Homo sapiens: one gene and its partners. The protein of the gene in region 1 purifies or fractionates together with the protein of each later gene. This does not show direct contact. Each region holds a gene or a part of one and is shown in the gene's direction. Other genes may lie near its edges.

Evidence for each region.
Region 2: the proteins of CCDC97 (region 1) and ZRSR2 purify together in Homo sapiens (affinity purification with mass spectrometry; 3 studies listed by BioGRID and IntAct, with this or other methods). This does not show direct contact.
Region 3: the proteins of CCDC97 (region 1) and CIZ1 purify together in Homo sapiens (affinity purification with mass spectrometry; 2 studies listed by BioGRID and IntAct, with this or other methods). This does not show direct contact.
Region 4: the proteins of CCDC97 (region 1) and SF3A3 purify together in Homo sapiens (affinity purification with mass spectrometry; 2 studies listed by BioGRID and IntAct, with this or other methods). This does not show direct contact.

The regions. Positions count from the first base shown.
Region 1 is NC_000019.10:41,320,147-41,325,406, forward strand, and holds the end of CCDC97 (coiled-coil domain-containing protein 97), read left to right. Parts: intron 1-194; coding exon 195-324; intron 325-2,448; coding exon 2,449-2,569; 3' UTR 2,570-4,727; downstream 4,728-5,260. UniProt on the Homo sapiens protein: May play a role pre-mRNA splicing through the association with the splicing factor SF3B complex which is involved in branch-site recognition.
Region 2 is NC_000023.11:15,800,433-15,807,490, forward strand, and holds part of ZRSR2 (U2 small nuclear ribonucleoprotein auxiliary factor 35 kDa subunit-related protein 2), read left to right. Parts: intron 1-3,255; coding exon 3,256-3,364; intron 3,365-3,678; coding exon 3,679-3,765; intron 3,766-7,058. UniProt on the Homo sapiens protein: Pre-mRNA-binding protein required for splicing of both U2- and U12-type introns. Selectively interacts with the 3'-splice site of U2- and U12-type pre-mRNAs and promotes different steps in U2 and U12 intron splicing.
Region 3 is NC_000009.12:128,167,573-128,174,572, reverse strand, and holds part of CIZ1 (cip1-interacting zinc finger protein), read left to right. Parts: intron 1-4,465; coding exon 4,466-4,553; intron 4,554-4,872; coding exon of another isoform or gene 4,873-4,950; intron 4,951-5,053; coding exon 5,054-5,167; intron 5,168-5,371; coding exon 5,372-5,521; intron 5,522-7,000. UniProt on the Homo sapiens protein: May regulate the subcellular localization of CIP/WAF1.
Region 4 is NC_000001.11:37,956,464-37,959,069, reverse strand, and holds the end of SF3A3 (splicing factor 3A subunit 3), read left to right. Parts: intron 1-806; coding exon 807-884; 3' UTR 885-2,095; downstream 2,096-2,606. UniProt on the Homo sapiens protein: Component of the 17S U2 SnRNP complex of the spliceosome, a large ribonucleoprotein complex that removes introns from transcribed pre-mRNAs.

The DNA.
Region 1 (5,260 bases):
CCAGAGCACTATATGGTCATGTGTTTTATGCGTGTCCCTGGAGGGCAGGGACCAGGGCCATCTCTGTCACTAGTGTGTTCCCAGAGCCACCCAGCGCAAGGCTGGGCACAGGAGCAGCAGCTCTCTGTGGACTCTGTGCTCAGTGCCTGCCCGAGTGCACCCGCATTCACACCCCCTCTCCTCTCCCTCTGCAGACCAGAGGTCAGGCAAGGACTCGGAGGCCTGGGTTCCCGACTCGGAGGAGAGGCTGATCCTGCGAGAGGAGTTCACCAGCCGCATGCACCAGCGCTTCCTAGATGGCAAGGACGGGGACTTTGACTACAGGTGCTCCTGTGCCTCCACCTCCCCATCCCCCAGCCCAGCATCCCACGGCCTTTGGTCACATGCAGAGCCCTTAACAAGCTGTGGGGGTCTCCCTTTGTGGAGCTACAAGGCCCCAAAACAGTTCCAGGATGTGGGGTTGAACAGCCAAAGGAAGAGGCTGGGTGACCTCGGACTAGCCTTGTCCATCTCAGACCCTCAGTCTCCTCACCTCTAAGGCAGGGGATGGACAGGGATGACATATAGCTCAGTATCAATGAAACCCTGAAACACTTCCCTCCTGGCAATGGCAGAGGCTACTACCCCAAGCCCCCCAAGTCTCCCTAGGAAGCCCAACCTCTTCCGCTTCACCTTGGACCTCCTCATGCTGCAGGAAGTAACCCCTGGCAAAGTTCATGCCCGGCATGGAGGGGCCTGCACTGGCTGCCCCCACAGTTACAGTTGTTCATTTCTCCAGTAGCACCCCAGGGCTGAGACACGTGGGCCACCTGCTTTGGAAAAGGACCCAGGAGAGTGATGTGTCAGTCAAAGATTGGTTTTGTCATTTAAGGTAGCTTTGCCTTGTGGTCCCAAACACTGGGCCCAGCAGCAGAGGACCCTCCTTGGTTTCACATCCAGCCCCGATGACATGTGAAATGTGTGACCACACATAAGCGGACCCTACGTCCGTCCTGAGGTGGGCTCATCAGGAAAGTGGGAATTGTGATTGCCCCTGCCGTGGGGCCCAGCCATGGTCACCAGAGCCTCCTCCCATTCTGGGATCCCTGGCTCTTGAATGGAATCTGGCTGCTCCACTTCCAGCCAGGCAGGCCTGCTCAGAGCCCCAGTTCCTGCACGCAAAGTGGTGAGCAGAGGGCCTGGACCATGGGGACCCTCATTCAGCAGGCATCACTGCTGTTCCCAAGCCAGGGCCCAGGAGGAAATTGGGGGTGGCAGGGACCACAGTGTGTTGCCTCGGGAGGGCAGCAGTGGCCCCGACGTGTCCCCCATCCGTGCATTCAGTTGGCATGTGCTGAGCATCTGTGATGTCCACAGGCTCTGGGGATAAGGCGGGGACCAAAACCAACGAAAGGCTTCCCTGCCTGAAAAGGGGTCCCACTCTAGTGAGGAAGATCTAGAATTTTCTAGCACTTCATGGTGATGGGGCCATGAGGAAAAGTGAAGCAGTGGGAGGGGAGTGACAGGGTGGCTAGGGAAGGCCTCTCTGAGGGGCTGACAGCAAAGGCCTGCAGGAAGTGGGAGGAGCATTCCTGGCAGAGGCCATAGTAGGTGCCAGAGCCCCCAGCAGCACCAAGGGGCAGAAGGGGCTGGAGCAGTCGCAAGGGGTCGCAAGGGGGTAGGAGATCTCTGAGTGGCCAAATCAAGCTAGGCTTGGCAACCCAAGTGCGTGCTGCTGGGTTTACTTGCTGCCTTAGGGCATGGGCAGCTGTCCTGCCTGTGGTCAGCTCTGGCTAATCCCGGCCTCTATCCACTGGAGGGCAGTAGCAAGCCCCCAGTGATGACGTCAAAATGTCAAAATGCCGTGGGGGCAAAATTACCCCCAAGTGGTTCTTTGTTGAGAGCCACTGCCTGCTTGAGAATGTAAGCCCATGTGTCGCCACATTTTACAGCTTTTTAAGAAAAACTAGAGCTTTGGGGTTTTTTTTAGACAGGGTCTCCTTTGTCACCCAGGCTGGAATGTGGTGGTTTGATCATAGCTCACCGCAGCCTTGACCTCCTGGCCTGAAGTGAGCCTCCCGCCTCAGCCAACTGAGTAAGCTGGGACTACAGGTGCTCACCACCACGCCTGGCTACTTTTTCAATTTTTTTGTAGAGACAGGGTCTCCCTTTGTTGCCCAGGGCTCCAACTGCTGGGCTCAAGCCATCTTCCTGCCTTGGCCTCCCATAGTGCTGGGATTGCAGGCATGAGCCACCATGCCCAGCCCAGAGTTTTTGTGCAAACTCTGATTTGGAAAATGTTCCCTTGAGTTTTAAACCCTGAGAGTTTTAAACACTATCTCCCTTGGGAGGGTCAGCTCTGACGGCTGCCAGCACATGGCCTTTGACATCAGGGTGCCCCAGGCCTTTGACCTGGGCATCCGAGGGTCCCAGGGAGACCCAGTCCTTGACAGCCTCCTCCTCCTGCAGCACAGTAGACGACAACCCCGACTTCGACAACCTCGACATCGTGGCACGGGATGAGGAGGAGAGGTACTTTGATGAGGAAGAACCTGAGGATGCGCCCAGCCCAGAGCTGGATGGGGACTGATGGCCGCCACCCTTCCCACCGCCTGCCCCATCCCCATCCCCAACAAGGCAGCTGATTCCAGGCCTGCTCAGTGACCCTTTCTCTAGGGGGACATCAGGGCAGTGCCCCACAACCCACACACACCACCATCTCACTGGGTCTAGTCTCATCTCAGACAACCCCCACCCCCACTGTTTCTGGGGTTCCCTTTCTCATCTCTCCCACCCTGTCTCCTGCCTCTGTCTTTCTTGGTGTCTGTCTGGGCTTCTTTCTGTCTCTTTCTGTCTTTCTGTCTCTCTCCCTACCCCCGCTCCCTCTTTCCAGTGCTCTGGCTGGCTGTCTCTCCCTTTCTCCCCCTCTCTCTCTGCCTTAGGCTCTGTCTCCACCGCAGGGCCCAAGGTGAAAGTCCTCCCCTTGCCGGAGGCCAGCTGGCAGGGCCTTTCGTGGCTGGAAGTGGCCAGTTTGGTTCCGGTGCTGACCCCTAGGCCCCAGCGCAGCTGCCTCCCGTGCTGTCTGTCTCCCCCTCTCTGTTTATGTCTGCGCTGTGTCTCACACTCAGAGCCTCCTTGCTTCTGTTAGGTTCCCATCTCTCCTTCTGCCTCACTCTGGGCCTCTTCTTTCTACTTGTACATTTCCACCTCTCTAGGCCTCTGCTCTCACTGTCCCTCTCTGTCTGTCTCTCAGCCTTTATCTCTGGGTTTTGATCCCCCACTCCAGGCTCTGGGCCCCTTCTTCCCCCTTCCCTCAAACCTGGCTGCTATAGGCAGCAGAACCCTGACCACTGAGTAATACAGCCCCAGGGGAGGGAGGAGACCCCAGGCAGGGAGGATGGGGGCAGCTCTCTTCTCTCCCCAGGACCCAGGCTGTGGATCACGGGGCCTGCCAGCTTGAGTGTAGAGGGAGGGGGGACTCTACCCTTCTCAGCCCCACCAGCCCCCCTCTGCCCAACCACAATTTTCCCTTCCTCCGCCTTCCTCTCCCTCTCCTGTTTACACTCCCCAAATGCGCACAGGCTGTTATCATGGGTCCTGAGTCATCCCACACACAGCCTGCCCCAGCGTCCCTGCCCCCAGCTGGCCGCAGGGCCCGCCCCATGGAGCCCCCTGCCGCCCTGGGCTAATGGGAGCCAGATGGCCGCCTGGTGACTCAGCCACCGGGCCTGTGGGAACCCAGGCGTCCCGCCTTCCCATGCCCCCACACCCGGCTCCTGCTCCCCCAGCAGACACACACAGGAGGGCCTGGCCACTGTTGAGGGGGCACACAGGGCAAGGGTCACCAAGTCGGGGCCTAGGGACTCCTCATGCCTCTGAGATGGAATGGTGGTATCCTGCCGTGGCCAAGCCTGAAGGACCCTCAAAACTGCCTCCTGGAGTCCACGGTTCCTGACCTCCGAGCCTCAGCTATGCCCTCTGGGTCAACCAGAATTAGAGCCAGACAGGGAAAGTGAGAGCTGGATGGAGGCAGACAAGATGCTCAGAGCGACTATTAAAGAACGAAAGCCTCTGCTACGGAGCGCTTCTGTCCTCTGTCAGGCCCGAGCGAAGTGCCTGACACCGGGTTGGATCCTCAGATGGCCCCATGAACTAGTGAAGTGGGTCAAAGGAGGCCTGGAAAGATGTTGCTTCCTCAAGGCCACTCGGCCATCAGAGGCAGAAATGAAACAGGAACCCAGGCCTAGAATCACAAAGGTCCTAGAAACCACTTGGCTGTCTGGCCTCTCAGGTGTCAGGGCCATCCAGAGTGAGACAGCATTGGAGGGACAAGTGTGCATGCAGATGTCCTCAGACGGGAAGGTTTGAGAAGGGTCAGATGGTAGGCGGGCCTAACAAGGGCTCCGTGCTAGCCACTGTCCCGCACACAGACAGGATCAGGTCATCTTGATATGGAGATCAGTCCCCAAATCACTGAATTGTCCCAGCAGTGCTATGCCCTAGGTACTACCAATATCACTCCTCTATTTCCCAGAGGAGGAAGCAGCAGCTAGACTCCAGGACCTTGGGGTCATATCTCTCAGAAAGCCAAGAGTGCAGGATGAGAGCTGTCTGTCTCTTACCTGCCTGTATTTGTGCCCCATTTTTAAAGAGCAGAGGGCCTGGGCCACAGGAAAGGTATCAGCCCTTGGTGATAGGCACATTTTTTACCAGTCTATCATTTGGTCATTAAATTTGTTTACAATATACTTTGCTATACGTAAATTTGTTGTGTAGGTTTTTAAAAAGCGATGAGAGACACAGAAATTGAGTCAGAATTAGGGTTAGTCAGATGGTCAAGACGTGAGCATCTAGCTGACAGACAGAGGTGGAGCCAGTCCCAGGGACAGGGATTAGATGGGGAGACAGGAAGAGAGGTGGAGACAGAGTGGGGTAGGGATGACGGGAGACACACCCCCTGGTCACTGCCTCTGAGACCTGGGGGTGGTGGGCCCCAGGGCGGGTGCCTCCCATCCCCCTCCCAGTTCTCCCGGGGTCGGGGTAGGTGGAAAGGCTGAGTCAGGGAGGGCGGGCCCCGCTGGGAGACAACCCCTAGGTGGGCATCCGGCCCCCACCCCCGTGTCTCCTGTCCGTCCTGGCCCTGGCCTGGCTCGCTGGCCTGGCCGCCACCCCGCCCCCCACGTCTGACACCTCCATGCGTCCTGCCAAAGCAAGCTGCCTCCCTGCACTCTTCCCCCTCCAGCTCCAGTCACTCTGTCCCTCTGTCCCCCGTCCCTTCTCC
Region 2 (7,058 bases), on another chromosome or scaffold:
TGCCTCAGCCTCCCAAAGTGCTGGGATTATAGGCATGAGCCACTGCGCCTGACCTGTAATTGTTTTTGAAAACAGAAAAAAAACAAAAAAAATTAACAAATGTAAAAAGGGAAAAGACTTTAATAATTGCAACACACCCAAAGATAGCCACTGTTAAGAAAGAGAAAAAGAAAGTGTAAATGTACTTTACGTGTGTCTTTCTATAATGGCATGATATTTATACATATTTTTCTATAAATTGCTTTCTTGCTAAATATATAGTGCATTTATTTCAGTACTGATGCAGGGATCTAATTCAGCCATTTCAGTGGCAATACAGTACCCACTGTACAGATGTAGCATAATTTATTTGCTATTCATAGTTTATTCATTTATAATTTATAGTTCTCTACTGATGGACTTTCAGGTTATATTGGTTTTTCACTCATATGTAAAAAGTTGCAGTAAGCATCCATGCTTATATATCCTTGGTAATTGTCCAGTTATTTCCTTAAGAACATGACTAAAAATGAGATTGTTGGAATCAAATCATAAGTCCATGTAAAATGTAGATGGCCAGGTAGAAAGGGCTTCCTGGTTTGCAGTTTGCAGCCCTTCTGGCAGTGAATGTAGGGGCCCATCTCCCCATACCTTCACTCATACTAGGCATTATCAGTTTATAAAACTATAATGAAACTGTTTCAAATGCACATTTCTGAATTAGGTAGAGTATCTTTTTATATGTTTTATTACCTATTTGTAGATTGCTCAAGTCTCACACCTTTCTCTTTTGGGATACATGTTTTTTTAAAATTTGTTTTTGTTTTGTTTTGTTTGAGACGGACTCTCGTTCTGTCACCAGGCTGGAGTGCAGTGGTGTGATCTCCGCTCACCGCAACCTCCACCTCCCAGGTTCACACGATTCTCCTGCCTCAGCCTCCCGAGTAGCCGGGATTACAGGCACGCACCGCCACACCCAGTTAATTTTTTTTTGTACTTTTAGTAGAGATGGGGTTTCACCATGTTGGCCAGGATGGTCTCGATCTCTTGACCTCATGATCTGCCCGCCTCGGCCTCACAAAGTGCTGAGATTACAGGTGTGAGCCACCGCGCTCAGCCGAAATTTCTTAATGTCTCTAAGCTTCTATTTCCTTGTCTGTAATATGGAGATAAAGTCAATCACAGTATCCACCTCACAGAATTGTGAAGATTAAAGGAGGTGATGGATGTATAGTGTTTAACACAGTGTCAGCAGATGAGAGGTGCTGTGATAGCTCTAGTTCTTATTATTATAGATTTCTGTTATGATGAAGACAATAGATACGGTATGAAATAAGAGAGTAATTTTTTTCCTGTTTATTTGAAATGCTTCTTTTAAATCACATACATGTATCTTTGTGCTCCTTAGATCTTTATTTCTTTATGAGTTGCATACTATTATTGAAAAGCAAGAAAATTATGTAAAAATACTGTATGACTTTATGTCCTATTTCAAAGCAGATGTATATTCAAGTTATTAAATTTTAAAATTTTTAACATTTTACTTTCTTGTGGTCTTAATTTATATATCATTTGGTTCATTTATATACAATTATATGTTTTTCAAAAGATTTGTAAATCAGAGTTGTGCCCACTGAAACATCTATATGGTACCCTCACACATGGCATAGGAACACTGATAGATGCAATGTGCCAGCCTCTGCCATGGCTAAAAGATGTGTTCCTGGAATCTGTATTTGGAAATGTAATATATTTTATTTAAAATTGTGGTTAGGTCCCCAGACTAGACATAAAACTTTACTGAACTCCTAATACTGCTGAAGTAATATAGAACAGTTTCTCATATTTAATTTCCCTTTTATAAATTCAGTGGAAGAATGAATTTGAGGTTCTACACACCTAATTGGCAGGTAGACTTTGGCAATCTAACCCCCTCTTTATATTAGAAATTTGTGATATTGGATGTCTGAGACACTTGCCACTTTAAGGTAATACCACTCATTATAATTGGTCATATAAAAAATAGACTAGACACTCACTAATTTATTTTTATTTTTTCATTTTTTGAGACGAAGTCTCGCTCTGTCACCCAGGCTGGAGTGCAGTGGCATGATCTCGGCTCATTGCAAACTCCGCCTCCCAGATTCAAGCGATTCTCCTGCCTCAGCCTCCCAAGTAGCTGGGATTATAGGCGGCTGCCACCACGCCTGGCTAATTTTTGTATTTTTAGTAGAGATGGGGTTCACCATGTTGGCCAGCCTGGTCTCAAATTCCTGACCTCAGGTGATCCGCCCGCCTCAGCCTCCCAAAGTGCTGGATTACAGGTGCGAGCCATTGCGCCCGGCCCTCACTAATTTATTTTTATAACTCCATTTCTTAAAACCTGTAGCTTTATTTTAAAAACATGATTACAATGTACTTTTATTTTCCTTCTTTTGGCTGTTTAGGTGTTTGGAGGCAAACCACAGGAGTCTCTTAACTGTGTGTAGTAGTAGTCCAAAGGTTTATGGCAAAGGATACTGGGTTTTCAGCGTGCTGCCATCATGGAATTGCTACTTTTAAGAATAGGGGCTGGGTGCAGTGGCTCACACATGTAATCCCAGCACTTTGGGAGGCCGAGGCAGGTGGATCACTTGAGGTCAGGAGTTCGAGACCAGCCTGGCCAACATGATGAAACGCTGTCTGTACTAAAAATACAAAAATTAGCCTTGCGTGGTGGTGGGCACCTGTAATCCCAGCTACTCGGGAGGCTGAGGCAGGAGAATCACTTGAACCCGGGAGGCAGAGGTTGCAGTGAGCCAAGATCATGCCACTGCACTCCAGCCTGGGCAACAGAGTAATACTCTGTCTCAAAATAAATAAATAAATAAAAATAAATGCATAGAATAGGAAGGGAAATGCTTTCTGAATATGAAAAGGTAGATGCTGCTTTGAAACTTGCTACCCATTTTATTGTCACCTAAACATCACTGTGATCAGTCTAGAGGGAAAGTCATAGTGTCCTTTTTTCTGTAAAGTATGTCACAGCCATATATACCTATGAAATGTAAGAGAGATTTTAAGTTATTACCCATTAGGAAGATAGTTGCTGACACGTGGTGCTTTTCCAAAAGCTCTGCTCTTCTCGTTCTCTTACACCCACTTGACTGCTTTAATAGAAAATAGCTTTCGTGATATTTGAATCAGTCCCAAAATGTGTCATTTTGCTCTCGTGTGTGTGTGTATTTGTGGATTAATGCCCATTTCTTTTATCTGATTACATCATTATACTGATAGGCAAAGATTACATGAGGAGTGGTTGCTAAGAGAGCAGAAGGCACAAGAAGAATTCAGAATAAAGAAGGAAAAGGAAGAGGCGGCTAAAAAACGGCAAGAAGAACAAGAGGTATGGTAGGAATCACGTAACTAGTGAACAAACTGATTACTTCACCATAATAACTCTCATGAAGAGTTGCCTATCTTGGGAGGTTGGAGTGAGCTGAGATCACGCCATTGCACTCCAGCCTGGGCAGCAAGAGCGGAACTCCATCTCAAAAAGAAAAAAAAAAAAGAGTTGCCTATCTTGAACTTAAAAAAAAAAAACAAAAAACTGATCTTATTCAGTTTGCCAGTGTTTTAAGTTTTTCATCTATGTGCGCTGTATGTGAAATGTTTTTAAAAAGTGACTGAAACAAAGTTACTTTTTCTTCCCCTTTAAAGAGAAAGTTAAAGGAACAATGGGAAGAACAGCAGAGGAAAGAGAGAGAAGAGGAGGAGCAGAAACGACAGGAGAAGAAAGAAAAAGAGGTGATTCCTGTCATGGGATGTGCTGTGTGATGAGTTTGAAGAATAATCAGTAGGCATGTCAGAGTTTGGGTTTTTTTTTTCTCTTTTTCTTGTCATTTCATTGTTTGTTTGGAAAGAATCATATTTCAGTTTAGACATAACACCAGAGTTCCCTTCTGATGCTCTTCTTCGGGTCCGTGCAGTGGCAGATTCCTTAAAGTTTTCTTCAGCTTTACCCTATTTACCCTTTATACTGGGCATTGGCAAATGTTGTAAAGGGCCAGATGGTAAATATTTTAGGCTTTATGGTTTGGTCTCTGTGGCAAACATCCAACTCTGCCAGTGTACCCTGAAAGCAGCCATCGATAATATGTAGATGAATGGGTATGGCTGTGTTCCAGGAAAGCTTTATTTACAAAACAGGCAGCTAGCCCTTGCTTTATAGCAAGTTATGTTCTTCTGAGGTTCTGCTGTATATGAGTTGACTTCTTTAGAGAATAATACTTTGTTTTGTTTCCACATTTATTTAGGTCATAAGAGAACTGCTTATGACATGTCAGCAAGAATTAGAGGATTTAAAGAAATCAGGAACTCAAATATTGAGGAACTAGGAAACAGTTTTTGTTATTTGTATTAAATCTTGACTTCCTCTTCCACTTAGGCTATGAAGATAATTGTAGCTAACACACAGTTGCTTATTTAAAAAAAAAAAAAAATCTGTGAGGCATATGTGTGTATGTATCTTCTCTATCTTCCAGGATTCTTTTTTAAGGATTGATTTGGTATGTTTTGCTGCTATTCCTTGACAGTATATTTATTTCAGAGGTATCACAGCTCATCTTCCCTTGACTGATTCATCAGGATTTGTCTTTTTTGTAATACAGCTAAATTTAAATAGCATAAAATTGGATAATCACCTTATAATTGGGAAAAATGCATGTGTCTTCATTGTAGTCAATATGGGGCAGAAGCAGCCTCCACGATCTTTGTTTTTTGTATCTTAGGCCATCAGTTAATTTCAGTGCAGATTTTAAACACCTTTATTTGAGCACTTCTTTCCAGATGAGGCAAGTTCATGCTAGGTTTTTAGGGGGCAGAAAAATTGTTTGGAACTTGTCATTTTTTTATAGAGAGGAATTAATTCCCATTTTAACAGTAGAGTGTTCCTCAACTGAGGTCTTTCAGGAATTCAGTAACAGCTAAGGCCTCTTTTGAATGCTTTTGTTTCAGAGGAAATCTGTGAGACTTCAAGGAGAAATGAGGGAAATGAAATAGATTCTAAGCTTATAAAAAAGAATCAGCAGTATGTGTTCCTGCTGTATGCTAGACACTTCGCTAGCGGACAGAGACAGAGCAGTGAAAGACACAGTCTTTGCTCTCATTGAGCTAGTTTTTTATATGGGAGTGTGAGATGATAAGCAAAACAGATCATTCAAAATGTGATCATATTAAGTGCTATAAAGAAATAAAGCAGGCCAGGCGTGGTGGCTCACGCCTGTAATCCCAGCACTTTGGGAGGCTGAGGCGAGAGGATCACGAGGTCAGGAGTTCGAGGCCAGCCTGGTCAACATGGTGAAACCCCGTCTGTACTAAAAATACAAAAAATTAGCCAGGCGTGGTGATGGGCGCCTGTAGTCCCAGCTACTCAGGAGTCTGAGGCAGAAGAATCACTTGAACCGGGAGGCAGAGGTTTCAGTGAGCCAAGCTTGAGCCACTGCACTCCAACCTGGGCAATAGAACTAGACTTCGTCTCAAAAAAAAAAAAAAAAAAAGAAAGAAATAAAGCAGAGTGATGTGATAGAGTAATGAGAATAGAGTTGTGCTTCTATAGATTGCCTGCTCAAGGAAATTTCTGAGGAGGTGATGTTTGAGCTGACACCTGAGTGGAGAGATCTCAGCAAGAAGAAGCCTGAAGCTTGAAGGCTGAAAAAAGGCCAGGGAACCTGAAATCTAGAGTCCAAAGGAGAGAAGGGCAGTGGAGGAGGTTGCTGAGGGAGAGGGGGCAGTGGAGGAGGTTGCTGAGGGAGAGGGGGCAGTGGAGGAGGTTGCTGAGGGAGAGGGGGCAGTGGAGGAGGTTGCTGAGGGAGAAGGGGCAGTGGAGGGTAAGCAGAGTCAGATCATGTAGGGCTTCCTGGATTTGAAGGAGGAGTTTGGATTTTATGTTTCCTATAATGGGAAGCCATTGAAGGGGTTTAAGCAGGGAATGACTCTGTCTCATTTATATCTGTACCTTTTAACAGATCATTCATTTAAAAAAAAAATTTTTTTGAGATGGAGTCTCATGCTGTCGCCCAGGCTGGAGTGCAGTGGCGTGATCTCTGCTTACTGCAACCTCTGCCTCCTGGGTTCAAGCAATTCATATGCCTCAGCCCCCCGAGTAGCTGGGATTACAGGTGCCTGCTACCACGCCCAGCTAATTTTTGTATTTTTAGTAGAGACAGGGTTTCACCATGTTGGCCAGGCTGGTCTCGAGCTCCTGACCTCCAGGGATCCACCCGCCTCGGCCTCCCAAAGTGCTCGTGTGAACCACTGCACCAGACTTTTTTAACAGATCATTTTTACTTTACTGAAACCTCTGCCTCCCGGGTTCAAGCGATTCTTCTGCCTCAGCCTCCTGAGTAGCTGGGACTACAGGCGCCCATCACCACACCCGGCTAATTTTTTGTGTTTTTAGTACAGACAGGGTTTCACCATGTTGACCAGAGGACAAGGAGAGAGAGAGGAATTCAAGTCATATTTTTAGGTTTTTAGTTTGAATAGACAGATAGACTGGCAACACTATTCACTGAGGGAGCATTCAGGTGGATGTGGGCCAGGGAGTGTAGAGGACAAGAGTTCTGTTTTGAGCACCACAAATAAGCAACTAGACATACGAGTCTTATGTAATGCTTTAAGGGGCTAGGGAAGATAAGACTGTCTGTTAAACATAGGTACAACTTGTTCAAATGCCAATTAGGTAGAAATTTACTGGCATATTGCAGAACCTCCTTTGCCTTATTAAAAAGTTAGAATTTTCTCCTAAATGCTAATTACCACTGGTCATGTCATATTTTAGCTTCTGCTAAATGTTTATGATTTCATCTAGCATTGTTTTTTGGGTTTTTTCGTTTGTTTGTTTGTTCGTTTTTTTTTAGACAGAGTCTTGCTCTGTCGCCTAGGCTGGAGTGCAGTGGCGTCATCTCGGCTCACTGCAACCTCTGCCTCCTGGGTTCAAGCGATTCTCCTGTCTCAGCCTCCCAAGTAGCTGGGATTACAGGCACGTGCCACCACACCTGGCTAATTTTTGTATTTTTAGTAGTGACGGGGTTTCACCG
Region 3 (7,000 bases), on another chromosome or scaffold:
GTTCTTCGCGGTTGTAAGTGAAAAAAATTCTAATTTCTATAAGACAGAAATTAGCTTGAGCAAAAAGGAACAATGTTTCTGGCTTAGGTTAGTGGGAATATAAGAGATACAGCTGGACCCAGGGGATACCATTTCTTAGAGAGGCTCCATCTCTCACTACAGTGGGCACCAGGTACCCACAGCCCCAGCCTCCCTGCACAGTGACTTCCAAGGAAGGGCAGTCACCTGTGTCTGCGGTAGCAGAACAGTTTCTAGTGGAAATGCTGGTTAATCTGATTGTGGTCACGTGCACGTTTCTGAAGCAATCCCCTGGCCAGGGATAAGGTGTTCTGACTGGCTAGGCCTAGGCAGGCCAGCTCTACCCAAACCACATGGAAATACATTTCCCCATGGAAGGCAGGGGGGTGTTCCCAGGAATGGGGCTGAAGGCTGGATCCCAATACCCTAGCTGGTGGGGGTGCCCGTCTCCTCCCTCCTCAAAGCCCCCAGGGCAGGTGCTGTGAACTAAGCCCTTGCCTACCTTAGCTATTTCTTTGTTTTTTTTTTTTGTTTTTTTGTTTTGTTTTTGAGATGGAGTCTCGCTCTGTCACCCAGGCTGGAGTGCAGTGGCGCGATCTCGGCTCACTGCAAGCTCCGCCTCCTGGGTTCACGCCATTCTCCTGCCTCCGCCTCCCGAGTAGCTGGGACTACAGGCGCCTACCACTAGGCCCGGCTAATTTTTTGTATTTTTAGTAGAGACAGGGTTTCTCTGTGTTAGCCAGGATGGTCTTGATCTCCTGACCTTGTGATCTGCCCGCCTTGGCCTCCCAAAGTGCTGGGATTACAGGTGCAAGCCACCATGCCCGGCCCGCGTTGGCCGTTTCTGGGCAGCCTCAGACGTGACACTGGCACAAGGTGTCTGCCTGTTTGATGACCATGTTCTCTCCCCACCCCCTTTCTTCATTTGTTGTGTTTTTCTCTCACAGAGATCAAAATGCACATTGAAAAATAGAGCCAGGCTGGCATGGTGGCTCACACCTATAATCCCAGCACTTTGGGAGGCTGAGGTGGGGGGATTGCTTGAGTTTAGGAGTTCAAGACCAGCCCGTCATGAGACCTGTGTCTCTGTAAACTATAAAAAAATTAGCCGGCCGGGCGCGGTAGCTCACGCCTGTAATCCCAGCACTTTGGGAGGCTGAGGCGGGTGGATCATGAGGTCAGGAGATCGAGACCATCATGGCTAACACGGTGAAACCCCGTCTCTACTAAAAAATACAAAAAATTAGCCGGGCGTGGTGGCAGGCGCCTGTAGTCCCAGCTACTTGGGAGGCTGAGGCAGGAGAATGGCCTGAACCCAGGAGGCGGAGCTTGCAGTAAGCCAAGATCGCGCCACTGCACTCCAGCCTGGGCGACAGAGCGAGACTCCGTCTCAAAAAAAAAAAAAAAAAAAAAAAAAAAGAAATTAGCCAGGCCTGGTGGCATGCACTTGTAGTCCTGGCTACTTAGGAGGCTGAGGTGGGAGGATTGCTCGAGCCCAGGAGGTAGAGGCTGCAGTAAGCCTTGATCATGCCACTGCACTCCAGCCTGGAGCAAGCTGCTTTAAAGTCTGATTTTGTTGCTTGCAGCAGTATTAAGAAGATTTTACTGAGGACAGTAAATGTCCCTAAATCCTAAAATCTAAAACCTGGTACTCTCACTGTGTGGCTGATGTGCCTTTTTTGACTACAAAAAAATTTTTTTTTCTGATTTTAAAAATAATTCGCTCATTATATAACGTTTTGAAAATACAAGGACACAGACACATGAGAAGATAAAAATCACCCATAATCCCATTACCCAGAGATAAACACTGTTTACATTTTGACCTAGTTCTTCTTGTGATCCTTTCTGGATTTATACAATCTTTAAAAATAAAAATCGGAATCATGCTACATGACAACACGAACACTTTCTGTCTCTAAGCAGCCCTCCCCAGCAGAGCTCTTACAGGGCTTTATCAGTGGACATGTGTCCCCTAAAATTTATGAAAACTTGTGTATTTGCATATTTTATAGAGAGTCCTTATTTTCGCTGAGTGAGACACTTTTTTTGGTTTTTTTTTGAGAGGGAGTCTCGCTCCGTTGCCCAGGCTGGAGTGCAGTGGCGCAATCTTGGCTCACTGCAACCTCCGTCTCCCAGTTCAAGCAATTCTCCCGCCTCAGCCTCCTAAGTAGCTGGGATTACAGGTGCCTGCCACAACGCCTGGATAATTTTTTTGTATTTTTAGTAGAGACAGGGTTTCACCATGTTGGCCAGACTGGTCTTGAACTCCTGACCTCAGTGATCCGCCTGCCTTGGCCTCCCAAAGTGCTGGGATTACAGGCGTGAGCCACCATGCCCAGCCAGGGTTTTACATGTATTTGGCTTTTCTTTTTTCTTTTTTTTTTTTTTTTTTTTTTTTTTTTTTGAGACAGTGTCTCACTCTGTCACCCAGGCTGGAGCGTAGTGGTGTGATCACAGCTCAATGCAGCCTCAGAACTCCTGAGCTCAAGGAACCCTCCTCCCAAAGTGCTGGGATTACAGGCGTGAACCAGCGGTATGCCCAGCCTTGGTTTAAGAAGCTGCCTACATAAAGGATACACTCTGGCCAGTGATAGCACAGCCCTTGTCATTGACATTTGTTTGCTTTTTAATTTTCTTATATCTTTCAACATGTAGAAGTTTTAAATTTTTATGCAATCGGATCTATCAGTTTTTTCCTTTATGATTTCTGGCTTTGATGTTATATGTTGCAATGATCTTTCCCAACCCAAGATTAAATAGTTGCTCTCCCCTTGTAAAATAAGTATTATTTTATTTATTTATTTATTTATTTTCTGAGACGGAGTCTTGCTCTTTTGCCCAGGCTAGAGTGCAGTGGCGCGATCTTGGCTCACTGCAACCTCCGCCTCCTGGGTTCAAGCAATTCTCCTGCCTCAGCCTCCCGAGTAGCTGGGATTACAGGCGCGTGCCACCACACCCGGCTAATTTTTTTTTTTTTTTTGTATTCTTAGTAGAGATGGGGTTTCACCATGTTGGTCAGGCTGGTCTTGAACTCTTGACCTTATGATGTGCCTGCCTTGGCCTCCCAAAGTGCTGGGATTACAGGCGTGAGCCACCGTGCCCGGCCCTATTTTATTTTATTTTTTGAGACCGGGTCTCTCTCTGTCACCCAGGCTGGAGGGCAATGGTGATCTCGGCTCACTGCAACCTTAACCTCCTGGGCTCAAGGAATTCTCCCACCTCAACTTTCCAAGTAACTAGGACTATAGGTGCACACCACCATGCCTGACTAATTTTATTTTATATAGAGACAAGATCTCACTATGTTGCCTAGGCTGGTCTTGGACTTCTAGGCTCAAGCGATCCTCCTGCCTCAGCCTCCCAAAGTGCTGGGATTATAGGCATGAGCCACTGCGACTGGCCCCCTTTTTATTTATTTATTATTTATTTTTGAGACAGCGTCTTGTGTTGCCCCAGCTGGAGTGCAGTGGCAGTCATGGTTCACTGCAGCCTCGACCTCCTGGGCTCAAGCAATCCTCCCACCTCAGCTTCTGAGCAGCTAGGACTACAGGCATGTGCCACCAAACCCAGCTAATGTTTTTTATGTTTTGTAGAGATGGGGTCTTGCTGTGTTGCTCAGGTTGGTCTCAAACTCCTGGGCTCAAGCAGTCCTTCTGCCTTGAGGACTGGGATTACAGGTGTGAGCCACTATGCCCGGCCTCCCTTTTTAAAGTATATGGTTTTTATTTTTATGCCTGAATCTCTGGTAGTTCAGCTAGAATTCATTTTCAAGTAAGGTAGAAGGTGGAAGCAGAAGGCGTTTCTTCTCCAAGTAGACAACAAATTGTTCTGACATAATTTGTTGTATAATCTATGCTTTTCAATACCAATTTATCAGAAGCAGAATTCTTTTTTTTGAGATGGGGGTCTCACCCTGTCACCCAGGTTGGAGTGCAGTGGCGCTATCTTGGTTCACTGCAACTTCTGCCTCCCAGGCTCAAGCCATCCTCCCACCCCAGCCTCCTGAGTACCTGGGACCACAGGTGCATGAGCCACCATGCCTGGCTAATTTTTTGTATTTTTGCTAGAGATGGGGTTTCCCCATGTTGCCCAGGCTGGCGAAGCTGAATTCTTACCAATATTTGAACCTGTTTAGGACTTTCCATTCTTTCCCACTGATACACTGTCAGGATGTACATCACACTACACAGTTTTATCTATTGTAGCTTGTGGTTTTCATTTTAAAGGTTGGTATCCCCAGTGCTTCATTCCCCTTCCCCCTAAAGTTTCCTGGGTTATTTCTGCTTAAGTACTCATCCAGATGAACCTCAGAACCATTTTGTTAAGCTTCCCTAAGAGATCCTGTGGGAGTTGCTATTGGAATGGATTACACTTATGGAGCGCTCTCAGACAGCTGCTGTCTTTCTGGCGTCACATTGTACTTGCTTTGACTGTTGTCATTCAGGGAGCCTCCACCAAGGCGCTGGTGCAACACCTGCCAGCTCTACTACATGGGGGACCTGATCCAACACCGCAGGACACAGGACCACAAGGTAGGAGGGCCTGCACGCTGCAGAGGCACCCGCACTGCCGTCTGCAAGTGGAGTCCAGACAACACAGAGCCCCAGTTGGAAAGTAAACGTTCCTCTTTGCCCCTGCACACCCATAACCCACAATGCAGTTTCTGGAGGAGTCAGTCTTGTTTCTTCTTCGGGCTTCAGGTTCCCCATCTGTCCAGTGTAGGCCAGGCCCCATCTCACCTGCCATTCAGCCACGGGGCTCACAGGGGTTATTTGGGCAGCTGCCCTCTCTCTCGTCTTCTCTCTGTGTCTGTCCTGTCTCTGTGTTGCCATCTGCCATCCTATCTCTCAGCCACCCACACCACGAAGAGATGTGTTTGCCCACGTTCCAGTGCAGGGGTGGAGCACAGCCCGGCTTGTTACAGATATGGTGGGCCTGCCCGGGGGAGGTGAGCTCTTGCTGGGCCCTGCCTGGGTGCTAGTCAGGGGGCTTGCAGCTGGGGACACTGCTTGGTTGGCCTGCCTTTTTCCAGATTGCCAAACAATCCTTGCGACCCTTCTGCACCGTTTGCAACCGCTACTTCAAAACCCCTCGCAAGTTTGTGGAGCACGTGAAGTCCCAGGGGCATAAGGACAAAGCCAAGGAGGTAACCTGAGCTCCCTCAGAGGACATGGGCCCAGAGAGGTACAGAGCCTTGGCCAAGGCTGTGTAGCAAGTTGAGGTTTATCCCAGCCCAAACTCACAGCGGGTCTGGAGGGATTGGGACTCTCAGGGGAGGGGTGGGGTGGGTAGGGCATGGCCCCCTGGCTGTTCAGAGCTGACCTGAGCTCCTTGCCTACTCCCTGGGCAGCTGAAGTCGCTTGAGAAAGAAATTGCTGGCCAAGATGAGGACCACTTCATTACAGTGGACGCTGTGGGTTGCTTCGAGGGTGATGAAGAAGAGGAAGAGGATGATGAGGATGAAGAAGAGATCGAGGTTGAGGAGGAACTCTGCAAGCAGGTGCTGGGGGGAGGGTGTGGGAGGCGGGCTTGGTGCTGGATTCCCAGCCCAGGACAGACCTCATCCCACCTCCCGGAGGCCAGACACTGGGCTGGCATCTGTGGGCACTAATGCATGCCACAACTGATTACTGTCAACTGCCTTCTGCATGACTATGTAATTATGCATGATGACTAGAGAGTGGCAGTTAAAATATGCAAAGCCTGACTGAAATTTGGACCTGTGTGGAGGAAGGGAAAGGGAACAGCATCAGTAAAGGCACGGAGGTGGGAAACTATGTAGTGTGCAAAGGAAAAGTCAGATGATGGTGATGATAATGGAGAGACTGACAGCAGCAGACATCTTTTTGAGCACTTAGTGTGTTCCAGGTGTGTGTACCAAGCACTATCCTGGCTGAATCTCATCAGATTGGATGGCAGGAAGTAAAACTTCAGAGTCCATGTTTCCAATGCCGCAGCTACCCTGTCTCTCATGAATGAGGAGCTGGAGGAGCTTGGATTCGTTGCAGTTTTTTTTTTTTTTTCTTTTTTTTTTTCAAGACGGAGTCTCGCTCTGTCGCCCAGGCTAGAGTACAATGGTGCGATCTCAGCTCACTGAAACCTCCACCTCCTGGGTTCATGCGATTCTCATGCCTCAGCCTCCCAAGTAGCTGGGATCACAGGTGCCCACCACCACGCCCGGCTAATTTTTGTATTTTTAGTAGAGACGGGGTTTCACCATATTGGCCAGGCTGGTCTCGAACTCCTGACCTCAGGTGATCCACCCACCTCGGCCTACCAAAGTGCTGGGATTACAGGCGTGAGCCACCATGCCCAGCCAGATTCTTTGCAGTTTAACACGTTTCCAGAGAGTGTGTTCTAGGTCAGGCCCTGGTGCTGGAAGCAGGGACCCATGAGGGCCAAGGCCTGGTCCTTGCCCTCAAAGGCTGACCCAGTTATAGTCCAGGGTGGTGAGGGGCCAGCTGGGGCTGCTCATAGCCTCTGGCAGCCAAAGTGGGGTATTGAGGGGCTGGGGAGGAAGCGTTGTGGTGGGGGGGCCTGCAGTCCTAGGCAGGGTAGTATGAGGCCCAGCTTCATTGCTCAGTAGTCACATCATCTCAGGCAAGCCACTTGGCCTCTCTGAGCCTCAGTTGCCTCTGCTCAGAAGTAACAACCTGAACTTGGACTATCAGGGAAGCCCAGGGCCCACAGCTTGGTCCTAGGAAGGGCTTAGCAAACGGGGGTGGTTGTCCTTCTTGGAAGCCACATTTGTTTGCCTGGTGAGTGGTGGAGGGCACTGCTAGGCCTGCTAGGGCTGACACGGCCAGAGTCAGATGACCTCATCTCACATCCAGCAGGTGAAATGCAGTCTTTGATCCCTTGAAACCCACCCTCTAGGACCAAGGTCACTGCAGTATTGGATAGGACCTCAGGGAGTTAGCAGGGGGCTCATGGTTAAGAGTGTGAACTACGGCTTAGACCTACAGGGTTCCCTGCCCAG
Region 4 (2,606 bases), on another chromosome or scaffold:
TGAAATGGCAAGTGGGAGTACCCAATCTCATGTTCTGCCATGGAGATTTATAGACTAAAATGCCGAGACTCTGTATCATGTATTAGATCTCCTTTGAGGAAAGCATCTAATGAGAGATGATACTCTCATAGCGACAGGGAGATGTCCTTGTTGGTCTTATGATGGTCATCCCAAGCAGCAGGTTTCAGAGATCAAGAATGACATGTATGTAAGGAATGGTACTGACTCACTCCAAGTCCCATAGTAACTGACAATAGCCTCCCTTTTTTTGAGTCAGTGGTTTTCAGTATTTTTTTTCTTTTTGGCAGCAAAACTCTCTTCCACTTGTAATATAGTACTCTGATATATAAAATAGAATCAAGCAGAATTGCCCTGGACATGGGGAAGCTCAGACTTCCTGGCTTCCCTTTCAACCCCTGCAATGGCCTCTGAGCAGAATCCTGGGATTCTTGGGAACCATTTGAAAACTGCTGTTGTAGGTCAGCCTTTCTCAACCAGGGTTCCCCATCTTAAACATAGAGAGCTAAATAAACTATTTTCTCAGATACTCTAATGATGGGTCATGACTGATATCATTCTAGATGTCTACGAGAGAAGTTAATTCATTGCACACGGTGGCTGCTTTGGGGCAGTGGGACTTAATTCTCTTGTGGAACCCCAGTTGAGAAAGGCTTAGATGAATGCCAATCTTAGTGTACCAGAGTATGCCATGGAATCAGGCCAGGATGAGCTCAGGTACTTAGAGATTGGTTCCAAACATTTCTTTTAGGAGAGCTGTCTAACAAAGTGTACCCCTTCCTTTTCAGGAAGAATATGAAGACTCAAGTGGGAATGTTGTGAATAAGAAGACATACGAGGATCTGAAAAGACAAGGACTGCTCTAGTGTTCAGGGATGTAGCTCAGCTTTTGGGCTAGCCCAGGCTTCCCTAAGATCTGCTTTTTCTATTTCTCCCAACCAAATCCTCTTAAAGACCCTTTGCTATGTAGTCTCATGGTCTAGCATGCATCTTGTAGAAACAAGGCATGCTGGCAGATTGCAGGGTTGAGATGTGTTTTATCTGTTTTATATTTTAAAAGATTCTGCCAGAAAATAAAACCAGACCTTGTTCTAAAGCCCAGGGTTATGGACCAACTCAGTGCTTCAGGTCTTAACGCCTCCATACCTCTTCCTCACCAACTTTACTAGTAGCTGAGATTTAATGGGCACCTATTATGCTACATATCATGTTAGGTAAATCTGACCTGACCTCTTTCCCCACCCTCCTTTGTTGCTGCTTCCCTGAATGAGTATTACCCCAGGATGAGGTCTGCCATCAGCTTAGTTAGCCATTGATGCAAATACTAGGGAAAGACTAGGAGGATGAGCCAGGGTTGCTACTAAGGACTAAGTGTCGCACCAAGGTTTGCCTTTTGTATTTGCATAAAGAAAGGAGTTGGAGCTGGGTGCAGTGGCTTGTGCCTGTAGTCCCAGCTACTTGGGAGGCTGAGGCAGGAGGGTTGCTTGAGACTAGCCTAGGTAACATAGTGAGACCCTGTCTCATTAAAAAAAAAAAAAAGGCATGGTGGCACGCACTGTAGTCCCAGCTACTCAGGAGACTGAGGCTAGAAGATCCTTTGAACCTAGGAGTTTGAGACCAGCCTGGGCGATATAGTGAGGCCCCATCTCAAAAAAAAAAAAAGGGGGGGGGGGGGGAGTTGGGCTGTGTTGGAATGGGCCTGCAGCCCAACAAACAAGGGAACTAGGACCGACAGTGACTTCACCAGCTTGCTAGGTCAGAATGAGAGACTGGTGGGTCTGTCTACCTGTTTCTTCTACAAGATCCCTATTTGACTGTAAAAGTAGCTAATACTCACATGTTCTCCAATCCCAGGTAGCCATGGTAGAGTTGGGTAGAGTTGAGCAGCTGCCCCAGGATCCAAATGTGGTGTCTGAAATGGAAAGAACTAAGGCAACCAGGAAGGCACTGATCTGCCTTATAAGCACAGTCATCTGAAAGTCAGGCCTGCTGCAGGACAGGATCCCCCAGAGACCCCATTTGCCTCTCAACACTCAGACCTTCAACTGTTTTTTAATAAATCTACTTTTTAAAAAAATGTTAATCTTTTTCTTTATATTACACATTTATATCTTATTTTTCTAAAAACCTACCAAGAACCAGTGCCGCACTCATCCCATGCAGAGGCAGGCTGGCTAATATATCTACTTTTAAAAATTCCAACTCAGGCCATGCGCAGTAGCTGATGCCTGTAATCCAAACACTTTGGGAGGCCGAGGGCAGCAAATTACTTGAGGTCAGGAGTTGGAGACCAGCCTGGCCAACATGGCGAAACCCTGTCTCTACTAAAAATACAAAAATTAGCCAGGCGTGATGGCATGCACCTGTAGTCCCAGGTACTCAGGAGACTGAGGCAGGAGGATCACTTGAACCCAGGAGGCGAAGGTTGCCATGAGCCGAGATCACGCCACTGCACTCCAGCCTGGGTGACAGCGAGACTCCGTCTCAAAAAAAAAAAAAAAAAAATCCCAACTTGAATTAGCCTTCTGCCTCACACCAATCTTTTGCCCTGGTTATTTCCATGGCAGTAAAGTTTCACCACCCCCACC